Regions from separate parts of the Homo sapiens genome. Here region 1 is linked to region 2. A link means that fine-mapping ties the variant in region 2 to the plasma level of a protein whose gene starts in the linked region. Region 2 holds a variant in brackets. A gene starts in the other region. All regions are shown on one strand. Distances are between the middles of the regions.

Evidence for each region. PIP is the chance, under the fine-mapping model, that this variant and not a neighbour inherited with it causes the effect. Protein levels are from antibody-based Olink assays in UK Biobank. Linkage for the fine-mapping came from a reference panel and not from the study's own genotypes, which makes the PIPs less certain.
Region 1: NOTCH2 starts here. The variant in region 2 is fine-mapped to the plasma level of the NOTCH2 protein (UK Biobank, PIP above 0.99).

The regions. Positions count from the first base shown.
Region 1 is chr1:120,066,502-120,074,779 of GRCh38, reverse strand. It overlaps NOTCH2 (notch receptor 2), which reads left to right and starts at 5,118. Exons shown (of 34, transcript NM_024408.4): 1 at 5,118-5,446. The coding sequence starts at 5,374. LOC101929178 (a long non-coding RNA gene) reads right to left here and starts at 4,952. Exons shown (of 2, transcript XR_254374.4): 1 at 4,769-4,952.
Region 2 is chr1:148,316,527-148,324,863 of GRCh38, reverse strand. It overlaps LOC105371225 (a long non-coding RNA gene), which reads left to right and starts at 7,448. Exons shown (of 5, transcript XR_007066561.1): 1 at 7,448-8,337. RefSeq lists an enhancer at 5,805-5,854. The variant C/T (reference allele first, on the strand shown) is at 4,142.

The sequences.
Region 1 (8,278 bases), 28 Mb after region 2:
ATGGTTCACTGCAGCCTCAACCTCCTGGGATCAAGTGGTCCTCCCACCTCAGCCTCCCAAGTAGCTGGGACTAGAGACATGCATCACCATGCCCAGTTAGTTTTTTAATTTTTTGTAGAGACAGGGTCTCACTTTGTGGCCCAGGCTGGTCTTGAACTCCTGGGCTCAAGCCATCCTTCTGCCTTGGACTCCCAAAGTGTTGGGATTACAGGTGTGGGCCACTGTGTCCTTCCTTAACATCAATAAAATTGAGATAATCACATTCATAAAAGGGCAAAACTATGTCAACAAGCCCACTGTATTAGTCTGTCTTCACAGTGCTGTAAAGAACTGCCCAAGACTGGGTAATTTATAAAGGAAACAGGTTAACTGACTCACAGTTTAGCATGGCTGGGAAGGCCTCAGGAAACTTAACAATCATGGCAGAAGGCAAAGGGGAAGCAAGGTACCTTCTTCATAAGGCAGCATGAAGGAAAATTAATGCAGGAGGAACTGCCAAACACATAAAACCATCAGATCTCATGAACTCACTCATTATCAGGAGAACAGCATGGGAGAAACCGCCCCCATGATTCAATTACCTCCACCTGGTCTCTCCCTTGACACATGGGGATTACAATTCAAAATAAGATATTGGGTGGGGACACAGGCAAACTATATCGCCCATATTACAATTACTTACATTACTGATTCCCTTAATTAGAGCAGAGGTAATTAATTGGGTCTAGGCTCAGTGGAAGGGTCTGGCTGGTTCTTAATTCTCAGAGCTAGTTTGAATCTTGAGGTTAACTTCTTGCCTTCTAGAACTTGTCCTGTGTTTGGCTGAACTCTGTGAACCTTTCAGAAAGTAGGTCTTTATTGAGCACATACTCTGTGCAAGGCAAAGAACCAACTACTGTGGAGTTTACAAACATGAATAAGGGGTAAGAAATGACTCTTGTCACATGGCTTACAGTCCAGCTGTGTGGGCCACCACAGTTCATATCTTTCAGGATGGGGACTGGATGAGAGGAAAGTGGACTCAAAATTAATCCCAGTGCTCTCTACTTTCCCATATCCCTGTGCTTTATCTCTGTTGTAGTTATGTTATTTGTATGTTGGCCTGCCTCACTGCTCTGTGATCTCCAAAGAACAGGGACTGGGTTTTATTTATTTCTGCATTGCCGCAGAGCCTAGTATGTGCTTTGTAGAGAACAGGCTCTCAAAAAAATTTTAAATTAAAAGAATTTATTCACTTGTTTATGTTTCCTAGTTACAGTGGGTCAGCTTGTTCTGTGCTAACATGGAAGTGACAAGAAGCTGGTGTCCCTCTACACAGAGGTCCCCACACTAAATATCATCTTGGATGTGCTTCACATTGTTGCACAAAGGTACAGTGGAGTGAGACTGAGTAAGAGGACAGAAATAGTGGGGGGTTTGTCTCAGCTCACTAATTACTTATTTAACCTTGGGCAAGATACTTAAAGCTCTATCTCAGTTTCTTCATCTGCAAAATGGGTATAATAATGACTGGGGTGCCTATTTCCCACGATTGTTTTGAGGATCAAATGAGATAATATAATTAAAAGTGTTTTTGGAAGGTCTAAATCACTGCGCAACTGCAAGGCATTATTAAAAGAAATCTTCCTTTTAATTCCTGCTTCCACAAACATCTCATCACATATCCTTGGGTTCCTGGGTTACATGGAGAGATTCGTGGTGTAGCTCAATCTATGTGTCATAGCTATCCCACAATCTCTTCTTCAACTTCTCCAACACACCAAGACATTCTTCCAGTCTTGCATTGTTCCCCAGTTTATATAGATATATATGTTCCTCATTCAGCATTTATGTAAAACATATATTATTGAGCACTTATGTGATAGAAACCGAGGCAAAACAGAAAATAAAACAGAGTTTTATTTTGAGAGTTTTTTTTACAGCTTATCGGCTCTGAGAGGACAGACATGAGAACAAATAAGTGCCCAATTCTGCATTTATTTTGGAAGGCAGTTTTATGTGAGTTTAAATCAGTAAAGACATAGATGTATATTTTTAGTTTTGATTAAAACTAAAACAATTGGTAGCCCTTATTCATATTTTTCTATCATTAAAACTTATCTTTAAAAAATGTCTTCAGTCATATTTTTCCCTTACTTCCATTCATATTTACTCTTTACTTCTCTTGTCCTTACCAGAATGTATGCAGTAAGTTTTCATATTGTAACATATTCAACAAAAGTTATATGTGAACATAATAGCTGCTTTCTTTAAAACGGTTACTTTGAGAAACTGCATACCTATTTTTTTTTTTTTTTTTTTTTTGAGACGGAGTTTCACTCTTGTTGTCCAGGCTGGAGTACAGTGGCACGATCTTGGCTCACTGCAATCTCTGCCTCCTGGGTTCAAGTGATTCTACTGCCTCAGTCTCCTGAGTAGCTGGGATTACAGGTGCTCGCCACCATGCCCGGCTAATTTTTGGTATTTTTAGTAGAGACGGGTTTTCAACATGTTGGCCAGGCTGGTCTCAAACTCCTGACCTCAGGTGATCTGCCCACCTCAGCTTCCCAAAGTGCTGGGATTATGACATAAGCCGCCACGCCTGGCCTGCACATTTATTTTAATAATGTTGTCATAGCTACAGTCGCTTCTAGAGTTGCTCTTTGGGGATAACTATCTTATATTCTTCTGAATATATTTTAATAGTGACAAAACTTATCTTTGCAGGTGATTTTTAAAATTTGTATGCAGCCAAGTCACTATGAATTATCTTTAGTGAGTAAAGAGGAAGATCGAACTGGTAACACTGTGGGTAAACAACTGAAAAATAATGTTATCTTTCTCTGAACATACTTGCACAAGACAAATTCCAAAAATATTTTGACTACATTATTTTTGAAAAGGGTTTCCAGTATTTCAATGTGACTACTTTCACTAATGGTACTTGCTTACCTAAAGTGCTTGTTAACATGCAGTTTTGGAACTTCATAGGTCTATGCCCATACTGACTTGTACTTGCTTAGTGTTGTTTCACATTCTAGTTCAACATCTATTATGTGATAGACACTGGGGATTAATAGGCTGTGGTCTTTGCCCATGAGGACCTCAAAACTTAGTTGAGAACACAGAAATACAAAGAGTCCTGTGTGAAAAATAAGTATCGGTGTTAAGATAAAGAAGCGGCAGTGGAAGACAGTGGAGGGACTGTCTGTTAGGGGGAGGAATTTATTGCGGTGTCGGCAAAGCCTTCTTTGGACTGAAGGATGAATTATGATTAGAAGTTCATTAAGAGGAGGAGGGAAGGGGACTACAGGAGTCATTCCAAGCCAAAGGAACAAAAGATACAGGGACAGAAACAGCAAGATATGTTTGGGGGAATCTCAAGTTAGTCAATACTGTTATTGTGTGAAGTTCACAACAGGGGCAGGGAGGACAGGAGATGGGGCCCAATGACGAAAAGGCCTTGTATGTACCATGTTTAGAAGTTTGAATTTTATCCTATAGGAGTCAGGGAGAGGTTCTATGGGTAGGATTTCCCATCCCAACAGGATTGTAAACTCCCACATCCAATTAGTCACACCTCCATTTTTTTTTTCTGTTTCTTTAACATTGTCTCGGATTCATTCCTTCTGAAATCTACCTTATTAGTTCAGGTCTTCTTAAATTTGTGCCTGGACTGTTCACCAACTCTTGACTGGTCCTGGGGCTCCAGTTCACCTCTTGCTCCCCCAACAATCAATTTTCTACAGAATTATCAGAGCAATCTTCCTTTCCATCAATCTCAACTCTGTTCAAAAACTTTCAATAGTTTTATGTGACCTAAGAGGTAGCTGCCTCCCCACCCTTTCAGCTTGCCATTCAAGGCTGCATAATTTGGTCCCAACCCCCTTTCCGTCCTTGACTCCTCTCACTGCTAACAGAGACAGAACTCATTTACTTACTCTTTTGACTGTACCTTTGCTTTCACGAGGGCTCTTTCCTGGAATGATATGTCCATACAACTATTGTTGCTGTTCTTACTTTTAGCTCTTTTCTTAGAAGCCCACTTGTACCCAGGTTTGATCACACCCCCTACTCTCCTGCCCTGGAAGTAACTACTATTCTGGTTATAGTCTCTTAATATCTATATCTATATATATGCATCCACAGATAATGTGTAGTATTGTCTTGAAAAAAATATACATAAATGGTATACTTTGTCTCCCTCTGTGATTAGTTTTTTCACTATCATTTAGTTTTTAAGATTTATCCCTATTGACATAAATAGCTATAGTCTTTTCAATTACTGTGTTGCATTTCATTTTATAAATATACCATACATTATTCATCCATTCCTCTAAGGGTGGGCATTTATGTTGTTTTCAAGGTTTTGCTATTACAGTGTTACAACGAATATCCTTAGCTTAGCTGGTCTCCTTGTCTTATACAAATTTTACTGACCTTTCAAGATCCTGCTTTCATCCCAGCTCCTCTGGGAAAGCCTTCCCTGAATCCCCCAGCCCACAGCGGCAAAGTCTTGGTACTCAAAGTTGCTTGTGCATCTTTGGTATCATCCCACTGCCAAGCACACAGCTACGCAAAGTAAGGCACTTAAGAAATATTCGCTACACGGATGAACAAATGAATGAATGAATGGGGCAGCACCACTCCGTGATGGCTCTATTCCTTTTTAATGGACTTTGGCGCCTTGGCCCACTTTCCTTCTTTGACAGCACTGGTCCTACTCCAGAGCATTCCTCTAGCTAGCAAAGCAGTGTGTGGATGTGTGGGTGTAGGTGGCGATACAGACCTCACTGGATGAGGACCGCCTCTCCCTGCAAGTTCACGATCCCGGCAAACTCCAGTGCTTGAAGTTCAGAGTCCTACCCCACCCCCCTCACCCCCACGCCCCTTCTGCACTGGTCAAGCCAGCGAGCCGCTGCAGCCCTGATCGAGTTAAGGCGCGGCGGCCCCCGGGGCCGCTGGAGAAGGATGCGGACGGGGCCAGTGACTCGTAGTAGATCCCTCCGCGCGGAGCTCGGGCCGGCGCTTCTTCCTGCGGGAAACCCCTGGGTGCCCAAGGCGGCGGGGCCGAGGCCGCGGCGACAGTGGGGCGGGGCTTGCGGTGGGAGGAGGCGGCTGAGGCGGAAGGACACACGAGGCTGCTTCGTTGCACACCCGAGAAAGTTTCAGCCAAACTTCGGGCGGCGGCTGAGGCGGCGGCCGAGGAGCGGCGGACTCGGGGCGCGGGGAGTCGAGGCATTTGCGCCTGGGCTTCGGAGCGTAGCGCCAGGGCCTGAGCCTTTGAAGCAGGAGGAGGGGAGGAGAGAGTGGGGCTCCTCTATCGGGACCCCCTCCCCATGTGGATCTGCCCAGGCGGCGGCGGCGGCGGCGGAGGAGGAGGCGACCGAGAAGATGCCCGCCCTGCGCCCCGCTCTGCTGTGGGCGCTGCTGGCGCTCTGGCTGTGCTGCGCGGCCCCCGCGCATGGTGAGTATCGGGCTGAGGGGCGCTGTCCGCGGCGCCCGGGGCTGCCACCTGGGGCGACCCTTCTCCCCCTCGGTCCTTCTCTGTGTGGGAAGGCCAGGCTCGGCCGCCGGCGCGGAGCGAGGCCACTCGCTGGGTTCCCAAGAGTTTGGACATCGCCGGGGGCCCCTCCCGTGGTGCCCCGCCAACCGCCGGGGTTCCCCGCCGCCTCTGCTCCCCGCGGCCCGGGACCCCTTACACGCCTCCTCGGCAGGAGGGAGGCCGGCAGCAAGTCTCAGAAACTCCTTTTTCGTAGTGCCAGGGTGCAGGGAGGTGGGCAGTTTTGCCCTTCAGGTTCCGCGTTTCTTGGGGTCGAGCGAGAGCCGACGGCGGGCCTCGGAGGGGCTGAGCGAAGGAATGCCAGATTCTGGCGTGGAGAGCGGGGGCAGGGCCGCCAAGCCAAACGGCCTGCACCGTCGCAGCCAGCCTCGCCTTTGCCAGGGGGCGGCACATGGGCCGGGTGTGTGGGCTTGGTTTGGATGGGGACGGGGTTTTGCGGCGCGCCTGAGTTTTGACACTCCAACCCCACCGAAAGTCCGGGGGAGCCGTGTGTGCTGCTCGCGTCTTTGAAAGGTGGAGGCAGGAGAAGTAGGGCAACTGGTGTGGCTGCATGCTGAGGCACATGATTTAAAAATCTCAACTGCTGTTATTCTTTCCGAGGCGCGGAGCTCTGCTGCTGTTTCAGGCTGTGTCCAGACCCAGGAATGTGGTGTGACGATCACCAATTCCTCCAACCTGGCAGCAGCATTTGCTGCTCCTTTGGCATGGCTGGGGGTGGGGCACGGGCGGGTGAGAAAAAGTGGATACGTTAATTCAAAGGGCTTCCTTAGAAAGCTTCTTTATGGTTGGATGTTTCTAACACGGTTGGACCAAGGAAAGGGAATCAAATCATATCTTCCCCATCCCACCCACACTTTTAGATTCTACATTTCTTCAGACCCTTTAGTGGAAATAACTTGGGCTTTGGAGCCCTGCTCTGTAATCCTGGATTCAAATCCAGCTCTGCTATATGAACTCACCAATAAAATGGGAAAGAAATTATCCAGCTAATAGGATTAATTAAAATAATGTATATTAAACGGATGACACTCCAAAGGTGTTCAGAAAGTCCTTTCAGGGCCGAGGCTGTGTTTTACTGCTTCTGAGATTGATGCTCCCAGTGGGATGCTGTCTTGTGCATATTTGTTGAACGGAAAGCAGCCCCTTCTTTTTCTGAGCCTAATCTGAATAAAGATTTTTACCTTCACCAAAAAACTAGTACATGAACTACATCTGTTTTCAAAGAAAAGGTTAGGAAGATGATGAGCTTCAGAAAAATATGGTCTTTGTTCATTGTTAACAGTCAGTCGACATGTCAATCGCAGATGTTTAAAAAGAGAACAAGGTTATTTATCACCCGAAAATAGTACTGGGTTGTTCAGCACCAACTAGATACTTCTTGGAAAGTTCAAATTTCGTACACGTCTAGGTCACTAAGAATTTCAGAAGTGGACCAGGAGGCTTTGTAGTGATGAAGCAGAGCCGTTGTTTCTGAAGCATTTAATAAAGAGCATATATGATGGTGTTTTTGCTTTTCCTTTTTCTTTGAGTGAAAGCTTTAAGTGTAGCTTTAGGATAGAGAGGAGTATGATCAATGAGACAGTCTGAGGGTAATAATCCTTGGTCTATCATTAACTTGTTTTGGTAAATAACTTAATCTTCATGATATGTAGTCTCCTCACCTATGAAGCAGGACTAAAGGAATAACCTGCTTTAGAGAATTGTAGGGAATAATAAATATAATTGTAAAGTGATTTGAAAAATTAAGTATTAAATAATATGATATCAGAAATGGGATTACTCTGACACATAGGGCTTCTTTTATTATAGGATCTCAGTGCATAAAACTATGCCCTCCACCTCTGCTCTGCTGAGGTGCTGCGATTATTAGCTAGCTTTTAGGTAGTCAAGTTGAGTGTTAGTCAAGTTGACTCAAAGGATAGGATTTAGATATTTTGATTTTTAGACAGGTGTTCTTTAGATGCTAAACTAATGCAGTAGAAGAGATTTAGAAGCCGTTTCTCGGTACAAATCTTAAATCTTCTTAGAGTCTACAGTGAAGGCTTCTTGAATCCTCTTAATTTATTATTGTGTTTTGCTAAGGTACCAGTTGCAGCACACCCTTCTAAACTTTTGAGTGTTCCTGTGTTTGGCTTGTGGCCAATTGTTAATTTAAACATCACGGAGTTTCTAAGGCAAGGAGATGTTAGCAGTATGTCTGATTGTCTAAACAGCTATCCAGGACCATCCTCTTGCTCCTTGTTTTCTTTTGCTTTGCAATGGGAAGTGACTCCCTGATTTTGCTGCCTGCTAGATAATTTCTCAGCTGAATTCTTCTCTTGCTTAAACAAAATCGGAGTAATTTTCTTTCAGATGGTGATGAAATTTAACCTAAAACTATTTTTCCTTTCACTTTCTTATTATTCCTTTTTTTTTGGTGTGGTGGAGAGGAGGAGGAGAGTGATTCCTAGTCTCTCTTATTTTTCTGAATGTTTAGATTTAAAAAATATTTACCCATAACTTCTTGGGATCTCTCTGCTCCATTCCCACCCTACTGCCTCTCCTGTAGGCTTCTATGACATAGAGGAGCAACTTTTGGTTCACCTGGATTGTAGTTGCTGACTTCAGGACCTTTAGAGAATGTTTAAATTCAGTGGGATATGCTTGGATGGTTCAGAGCAGCCTTACAATACATCTTAAAAATATCACACCCACAGAAATTCTATTTTGCCCACAAAATTTGCATTGATCTAGTTC
Region 2 (8,337 bases):
TTGGATTTGGTTTTGACTTGGTTTAAATTGCTTGACAGGACTGGTCTTGGGAACTTGCCTACTCCATTTGAGTGGAAGCGTGGCCTGATCACCCACAATGTGCCTGTACCGGCACTTTGGTTTTTGTTTTTGACTTGACTTAGATTGCCTGATACTTCGGTTTTGGTTTTGACCTGGCTTGGATTTCTGGATACTCTGATTTTGGTTTTGATTTTGGTTTGGTGTAAACTGCAGAAGTGTGTGTGTGCCCTTTTTACCTGTTTTTTGTTTTGTGGTGTGTGGCGTGTGGTGTGAGCGTGGTGTTTTGTCTTGAAGAAACATGGGTCAGGCACAAATAAGCCCCCCCCACTAGGAACTATGTTAAAAAATTTCAAGAAAGGATTCAATGGAGACTATGGAGTCACTATGACTCCAGAAAAACTTAGAACTTTATGTGAAATAGACTGGCCAGCATTAGATGTAGGTTGGCCATCAGAAGGAAGCCTGGACAGGTCCCTTGTTTCAAAGGTATGGCATAAGGTAACCTCTAAGCCAAGGCACCCAGACCAGTTTCCGTACATGGACAGTTACAGCTGGTTTTAGACCCCCTTTCCCTGCCCGCAGTAGTTAAGAGAACAGCAGCATAAGCAGCTGGCAGAGGCAAGTAAAGACCATCAGAGAGAAAAAGAGGCCATCTATACCAATTCTAAGTTAATTTAGACTAAACAAGGTCTTATTAATAGCAAAGGACAATTGAAATCCCAAACTTACAAGGTTTTCTACAAAAGTGAAGTTTGCTAAAAGTTAACAGTGTAACATGTATTATGGTAACTTCTAATCTTGTGGCCTTAGACAGTCTATCCAAAGACATAAAGAAAGTTCACTTTAAAAAAGGAAAAAAAAGGAGGAAGCAGAATTTATACAAACAAAAAGTTATGTGGTAAATTCTTGTCCTGAAATAAATTAACTGGTTGTTTAAAGAAAAAAGTGTTTGTAATAAGTCAGAAAGTTGAGACATGTTGAAAAATTGTCTGTGGAAGTCGTGAAAGAAAAAAAGTTATAAAAAAATTTTATGCAAACAAAGTTGTATAATTTAAAAGTAATAAGGCCTCCTGAGTACTATTAAAGAAACAGTTTATGTGCAAGGTGTATAAGAAAACTAAAATATACCTTTGGTAAAAAGATTATAAGGAGGCATTAAAAAAAAAAGTCAGTTTGACCATGAGGTAAGAGTTCCAAAAACCTTTCATAACCTTTTATACTTTTGTATTAAGGAGTAGATAAATGCTCTAGAAGACCCTGATATTGCAATACACGAGCCCAGATGTTGGCCTTGCATCAGTGTGCTCCTGACTGTAATGTCTAATTTATAGAAAATCTCTGAATTTGAGAGGCCAGAGTGTGTGGATCACTTGAACTTAGGAGTTTGAGTCTAGCCTGGGCAATATGGTGAAACATTGTGTCTACCAAAAATACAAAAAAAAAAAAAAAAAAAAAAAAAAAAGAAAGAAAGAAGAAAGAAAAGAAAAGAAAGAAAGGGAAAGAAAAGAAAGTCTCTGAACTAAACTTATCCCTCAAACTCCAGCCTACAATTCTCACGTGCCCACCTCTTCTGTCTAGAGGAAGAGGGGGCATGAGGTGGAAAACGGGACATGTGGGATTGTTGGGCCTAAAGGGATTGAATGGTTTCAATTTCTGGTTCTGTGTCTTGTGAAAGCAGTTCATTTTGTTTGTCATCTTCCCCAGAGTCTGAAGACAAGGCATTAATTGGTGTCAATATTCAGGATTTAGAAGGAGAAGCTGCCTTTTTCAGACCCAGGAGACAAAGCCCTGTAAGCTAATAGCATAAGGATTAGTTAATAGGACATTTGTACTGCAGAAAGTTCTATTTCTCTCTAACGTGTCACCGATAAAAACACTATGATCTGCTGTCCAGTAGTTACTGCCTGCAGCACTTCAAACCATCGTATTAAAGTGGTTAGGATACTCCTTGCATGTAACTAATTGCCAGCATTCTAATGACAGAACTGTGACCGAAAGCATCAAAAATGTGACAGAACCTATGCCAAACTTTTCAAAGTAAGACAATTAAATTTTCTCTCCATCATTTAACAAAATACTAAATGCAAATATCAGTTTTGGAAATTCAGTATGAGGATAAATAATCTCCTTTTATTTAAATATTATACAACAAAACAAGAACAAAGTGAGAATAAACACACAGTCAGTTTTTTTTTGGCTATTTTATTTATTTATTTATTTTGAGACAGAATCTCCCTCTGTCACCCAGGTTGGGGTACAGTGGCAGGATCTCAGCTCACTGCAACCTCTGCCTTCAAGTTCCAGGTTCAAAGGATTCTCCTGCCTCAGCCTCCTGAGTAACTGGAATTACAGCTGTGTACCACCATGCCCAGCTGATTTTTGTGTTTTTAGTAAAGATGTTTTGCCATGTTGGCCAGGCCTTGAACTCCTGTCCTTCAGTGATCTGCCTGACTCAGCCTCCCAAAGTGCTGAAATTATAAGAATGAGCCACCACACCCATCTTTCTTTTCAGCTATTTTAAAAGAGCATAATCACATATTTCCAAGGTTGGTTTCTCGATGTGGTACTCATAACTGATTAGGTTGCTTTCACCATTAAAATCTTCAAACCAGTGCAACAATTTACATGTTTTGTTTTCAAGTACACACATGAAAGCCCAACAGTGATACAAGGCTTGGTATCAAAAATCACTAGAAATTCTCACAGCTTGTTTTTATTACCACTTCATCCAAGTGAATGTCACTTAATTTTAATAATGCTAAACACAACTGAAGGAGGTTGAGAGAAATCCAATCAACATAATATCCTTAAGGACAAGGCCAATCTTTCTGGATGTTGGAACTTTGTACCCACATCACAGTTTTTCCTCATTAAAGGAAAGGGTCTGCAACCAACTCAAATGATTGATTGCAAGTCTTCCCTTGTCCAGTATAGACAGCTTTTGTGTCTAACTCTACCTCAGCAGCTGGCCTATACCTGGGGCCAGCTATAGGCCAGGGTTGGAAGGGTTCCTTGCTCCAACATCAGTGGTAGATGCCTTTTGTTTCATGTGAGAGAAGCAACCAGATTTTGTGCCTGTACTCTAGTGGTGGCCAATCATGACCTATATGCCTCCACCACTGTGGCAAGCTCAAGAAACTCTCTTTCCCTGCCACATGTGTCTTTTCAGCACTTAGGATGTGAGAGGAAAGACCCAGCAAATGGGCAAAAACCATGCTATGTATCTGGAACTCTCAGACTAAGCTGTCACAATAGTTCACACTTGGCCTTTAAGAAACGATAAAAACTTCAGTGTTTGGTTTCCTGTTTCTGCATTAGCTTGCTAAGATAATGTGCACTGCTTTTGACCTGGCGCAGTCATTCACATGTCTGATCTCAGCACTTTGGGAGGCGGAGGTGGGTGGATCATGAGGTCAAGAGTTCGAGACCAGCCTGGCCAGTAAGGTGAAACCCTGTCTCTACTAAAAATACAAAAATTAGCTGGGCATGGTGGCTTGTGACTGTAGTCCCAGCAACTCAGGAGGCTGAGGCAGAAGAATCACTTGAACGTAGGAGGTAGAGGTTGCAGTGAGCTGAAAACGTGCCACTGCACTCCAGCCTGGTGACAGAGCTAGACTGCATCTCAAAAAAAAATTATATATATATGTATATATATATACATATATATACATATATACATATATATACATATATACATATATATACACATATATACATATATATAATAATGTGCACTTCTTTGAATATTTTACCCTTTTCTGCCCATTAAACCATTAGAGCTGGCATTTCCTTTTCTATCCCATCTGAGAGACTTAAGTGCATTGTAATTTGCAGCAATTAGTATTATATTGGAGATGACGTCTCATTCCCACCACCTCATTGTATGATTTCTGCGTTTTTGCTTTGTTTATAAAATCTCTTCCTGCCTTTCTTAACTAGACTGGTCTGTCTGGGTAAATTTTCTGTTTTTCTGTAGTGTTTTTGAAATCCATGTCCCTGATTAGTTAATATGTTTTCTTAGATCTCAGGTGCACAGGGAGAAGGTAATCATGTACCTTAGCTCAGGGCACATTATGGTGGCTGCTTTGAGCAAGGCCCTTACTGTCTTTCCTTCTTTTCT[C/T]TGTTTATCCCACTCCCATTTCCCTGTCCACTTCCAGAAACACGTTCTGAGGAGTTTAGTATATGCTCTTTTATCTCACACTTTCTCTGCATATTTCAATAAGGAGATGTCTTCAGAAAACATACATTGTTCTTTGGGGATGGAGGATGTTAAAACAACTTTAAAGTGTGAATTGGTTTCCAAAAACCCATTCCATCCTCTTTACTCCATTCTGTGTACTATCTTCTCAACTTTTCTATTCAAATAGAAAAGTTTGTGTATAAATGTGGGGAGGAAGAAAAGAGTCAAGCCAATGTAAAATGGGCAAAACACTTGAACAGTGTTTGTTTACCAAAGAGAATTTCTTAATGGCCAAATTGCATAAGAAAGGATTCTTGGCATTATTACTCATTCAGGAAACACAAATTTAAAATGCCATGATACTCCATAACACACTCATCAGAATGGGTAACATTTAAGAGACAGGGAAAGCCACTGGCTTATAAAAATGCAGAGCAACTGTAACTCTTGTTGCTGGCAAGAGAATGCAATAGTATTGGTGGGAGTGGTGGCTCACGCCTGAGATCCCAGCACTTTGGGAGGCCGAGCTAGGTGGATCACTTGAGGTCAGGAGTTTGAGATCAGCCTGGCCAATGTGGTGCAACCCCATCTCTACTAAAAATACAAAAATTAGCTGGGCGTGGTGACAGGCACCTGTAATCCCAGTTACTTGGGAGGTTGAGGTTGAAGTAGGAGAATTGCTTGAACCCGGGAGGCAGAGGTTGTAGTGAGCAGAGATTGTACAATTGCACTCCAGCCTGGGTGACAAAGTGAGACCGTCTCAAAAATAAAATAAAATAAAACAAAACAAAATAAAAGAGAATACAATAGTGCCACCATTCTAAAATACTGTCTGATAGTTTCTAATACAGTTAAAAATACACCCACTTCATGACCCAGCCATTCCATTGCTGGGTTCATGCTCAACAGAATTGAAGGCACAGGCCCATAAAGAGACCCATAATAGAATATTTGTAAACACCTTATTCACAATAGCCCAAACTAGAAATATCCCAATTGTCTATCAACTGTAGTATACTCACATGTTGGAATAACACTCATTAATAACAGCAAAGAGCTGAGATACATGTCATAAAATGGAAGCATCTCATAACAATTGTTGCATTTAAAAAAAGAAAAACACAGGCAAAATCAGTATAGTCCTTTACGTGATTTCTACAAGAAGTAAAAGTATACCACAGAGATAGAAATCAAATAGTGATTGCCTAAGTGGGGATGGGGTGAAGATTGACTGAAAAGGGGTTCTCACGACCTTTTGGTCTGTTGAAAATGTGCTGTAACTTGATCTAGGTGATGGTTTTTTTTGTCAAAATGTACTGGGCCACGCACTTAAGATTGGTGCACTTTGGTCTCTGCGGATTATACTTCAGTCATTTATTGGTAGCAAAAAATAAATAAATAAAAACAAAATTAAAAATTGGGGTTGGAGAATGTCATTAACTTTAGATTTTACTGTATTCGTTAGGTTTTACTTAAAATACCCAGTTGGAGTGTGAACTCTCATCTTCTCTTGTTCATTTCTGATTTGGCCTGAAAAGGCCCCACGGATTCTTGAAATATCTGAGTCAGAACAGCGGGTACAGCCATATCATGTCAACAGTAAAAGATTCCAATAAGGCTGACTGAGAGGGGGCATCTCATCTTTTGGGTGTTGTACTTGCTCAGAGAGGAGGCAAAAGTCTTTCAAGATAACCGGACCCCTAGGCATGCAGCGTAGGGGTTCCTTCTATTCTCAACACTACCGGGAGTTCCTAAGCCACAGGAAAGTTGTGACCTTTCTAGCCGCAGGTCAGAGGCTCAGCCTAGGCTGAGACTGGAGGCGAAAGGGAAAGAAGAGCACTACACCCTAGAATGGATGTGGCCATGACTCGGATTGGAGACAAGGCTGCTGGGGCCACAGCGCAGAGTACTAACCACAATACGATCACCGCAAGCCACAGGAGCTGAAGGGCGCCGGGCTCTTTGTTTAAACGTAATGCAGGGCTGCTTCCTTTTTGGAGACCTAAGGGTCCGCGTAGATTTCGTTCGTTCTTGGTGTCTCTCCGTTTTTCCCCCCTTTCTTCCCCATTCTGCTACAATAAAAAAAACACTTCTCATCTCTCCCTTGTGCAGTCCTTACCGCTGCACAAAGCTACTGGAAAGTTTCTTCTTCCTGGTCCACGCCTCTACCGACTTCCTTGCCCTCCTCCTCGCAATTCCCTGTTGGATTCACCCCTTGCCCGGCTCCGGCCTCCTGCGCAAGACAGGCACCCAAAAACAGTGCAGCTGAGTCCCCGCAGCTCCCTGCCTAAGAGTGGCAAGAGAGGCCACTGGAGGCCTCGCCGCTTGCGCGCCCCACAGGATGCCCGATAAAGCAATCGGAAAAAATGCTTTTTAAAAAGAACCTACTTCCCCTTCGTGACGAGCCCCGGCAACATGTCGAAATCCTGTATCTACAAAAAATACAAAAATTAGCCGGGCGTGGTGGCGCTCGCCTGTCGTCTCAGCTACTTGGGGGCTGAGGCAAGAAGATCACTTGGCCCCGGGAGGTCGAGGCTGCAGTGAGCCTTGTTTGCACCACTGCACTCCAGCCTGGGGGACCAAGTGAGACCCTGTCGCAAAACAAAACAAAACAAAACTTCCCCACAGAAAAATAGTTCATGATTTACATTCTCAGGACTCTTCAAAGGACTAAAAGTTAAAGGCGACAATGGATTCACTCGACGAGTCTTAGTCCTGCGCCCTGGTGAATGGCAGACCCTGCTCCCTGCGAGGGGATCACGAGGAACTCTCACCACCATCCCTGCCCTGGTGGAGCCCGCCTGCGGACACAGGATCCGAAGATGGCAGCGGAAGCTCTGCAGCGGCCCCTAAAGCGATTGGGCAGTGTGGGCACAGGCTCCCTCACGGGGTGAAGGCGGCGCAAAGAACTGGAAGAGCCATCCTGGGAGCCCACCGGGCATTCAGCTTCCCTTGGGCCCCCAGGCGGCTCGGGCCCGGGTCGCAGACTGGGGCGTTTCCGGGGGCTTCTGAAGCAGGCGAGGGGCAGGGCGGGCGAAGGCCATTCGGCTGTCCTTCTGGCTCCAGAATCTCCCAACCCGCGGGTGTGCAACGTGATCAGCGCGACTCACCGCTCTAATGTCTCCGGTTTTCCCTCCTGAGGGGCAGGCCCTCAGGACAAAAGGGATGGGGAGAGTTTGGTGAGTGTGCCCTGCACGTAGCGCCCGGTAGAATCAGTAGCAGCGGTCTCTGTTGCGCAATCAGCGCGTTTGGCTGTTAACAGAAAGGCTGGTGGTCCGAGCCCAACCAGGGACTCCTCGCTTTGTTGTTTTAACCCATTTCTGTTGATATACAATCAACTCCAGCCTAATCAGGAGACACACATGTCCTCTTCCCCACCTTCTTAGGTCTGAGGCTTGGCAAGGCCCATGGTGCCTTGTACCTGTCAAACTCAAGAATCCCAGAGACCTTAGACAGGAACTCACTTCTGGTGTGATAAAAATGTTCTTTGCTCCCATGGAAGACTTGGGGGAGTAAAGTGCCTCTAGTTTTTCATGTTTAATAATAGGAGACCTATTACAGTAGTATTCTGTCCCCGGATGTGCCTGGGTTTAAGTAATTCCTCTATCAATAATGTGACCAGTGGAATCAGTCATCCTCATGGTGATCCTCGCCATTGTTTGTGAAAACAGCATTTCTTCCTCTGTTTGTGCATGATTTAACCCTTTTCAAGATGTTTTTGAAATGAGGTGGGTTTCATGGCTTTAGGATTACAAATGATGCCGCAATCTCCACTATTCTTGTACACATATCTTTGGACACTTGTGCAGATATTTCTATAGTGTAGAGAGGAGGATGTGCCATTTTTACATTACAACATTTATTTAATGCTTCTAATTTGAGTACATTCTGCAAATTTATCTTCCGTGGGAGCGATACCAAATCATATTCCAATTTGTTTCCCAATTCTATCAATGTCCCTTCTGTCATTTACTTGCCGGCACAACAAACGTTTCTACACATTGATGTATGATATTCCACTGAGAAGAGAGGCATCCTCCTGGCTTAACTGAGGGGGTGTACAACCGAAGGAAATGGTGGACATTACGCACAGATATTCTGCGGCTTAGGATGAGCTGCTAAACTTCTAGGATGTT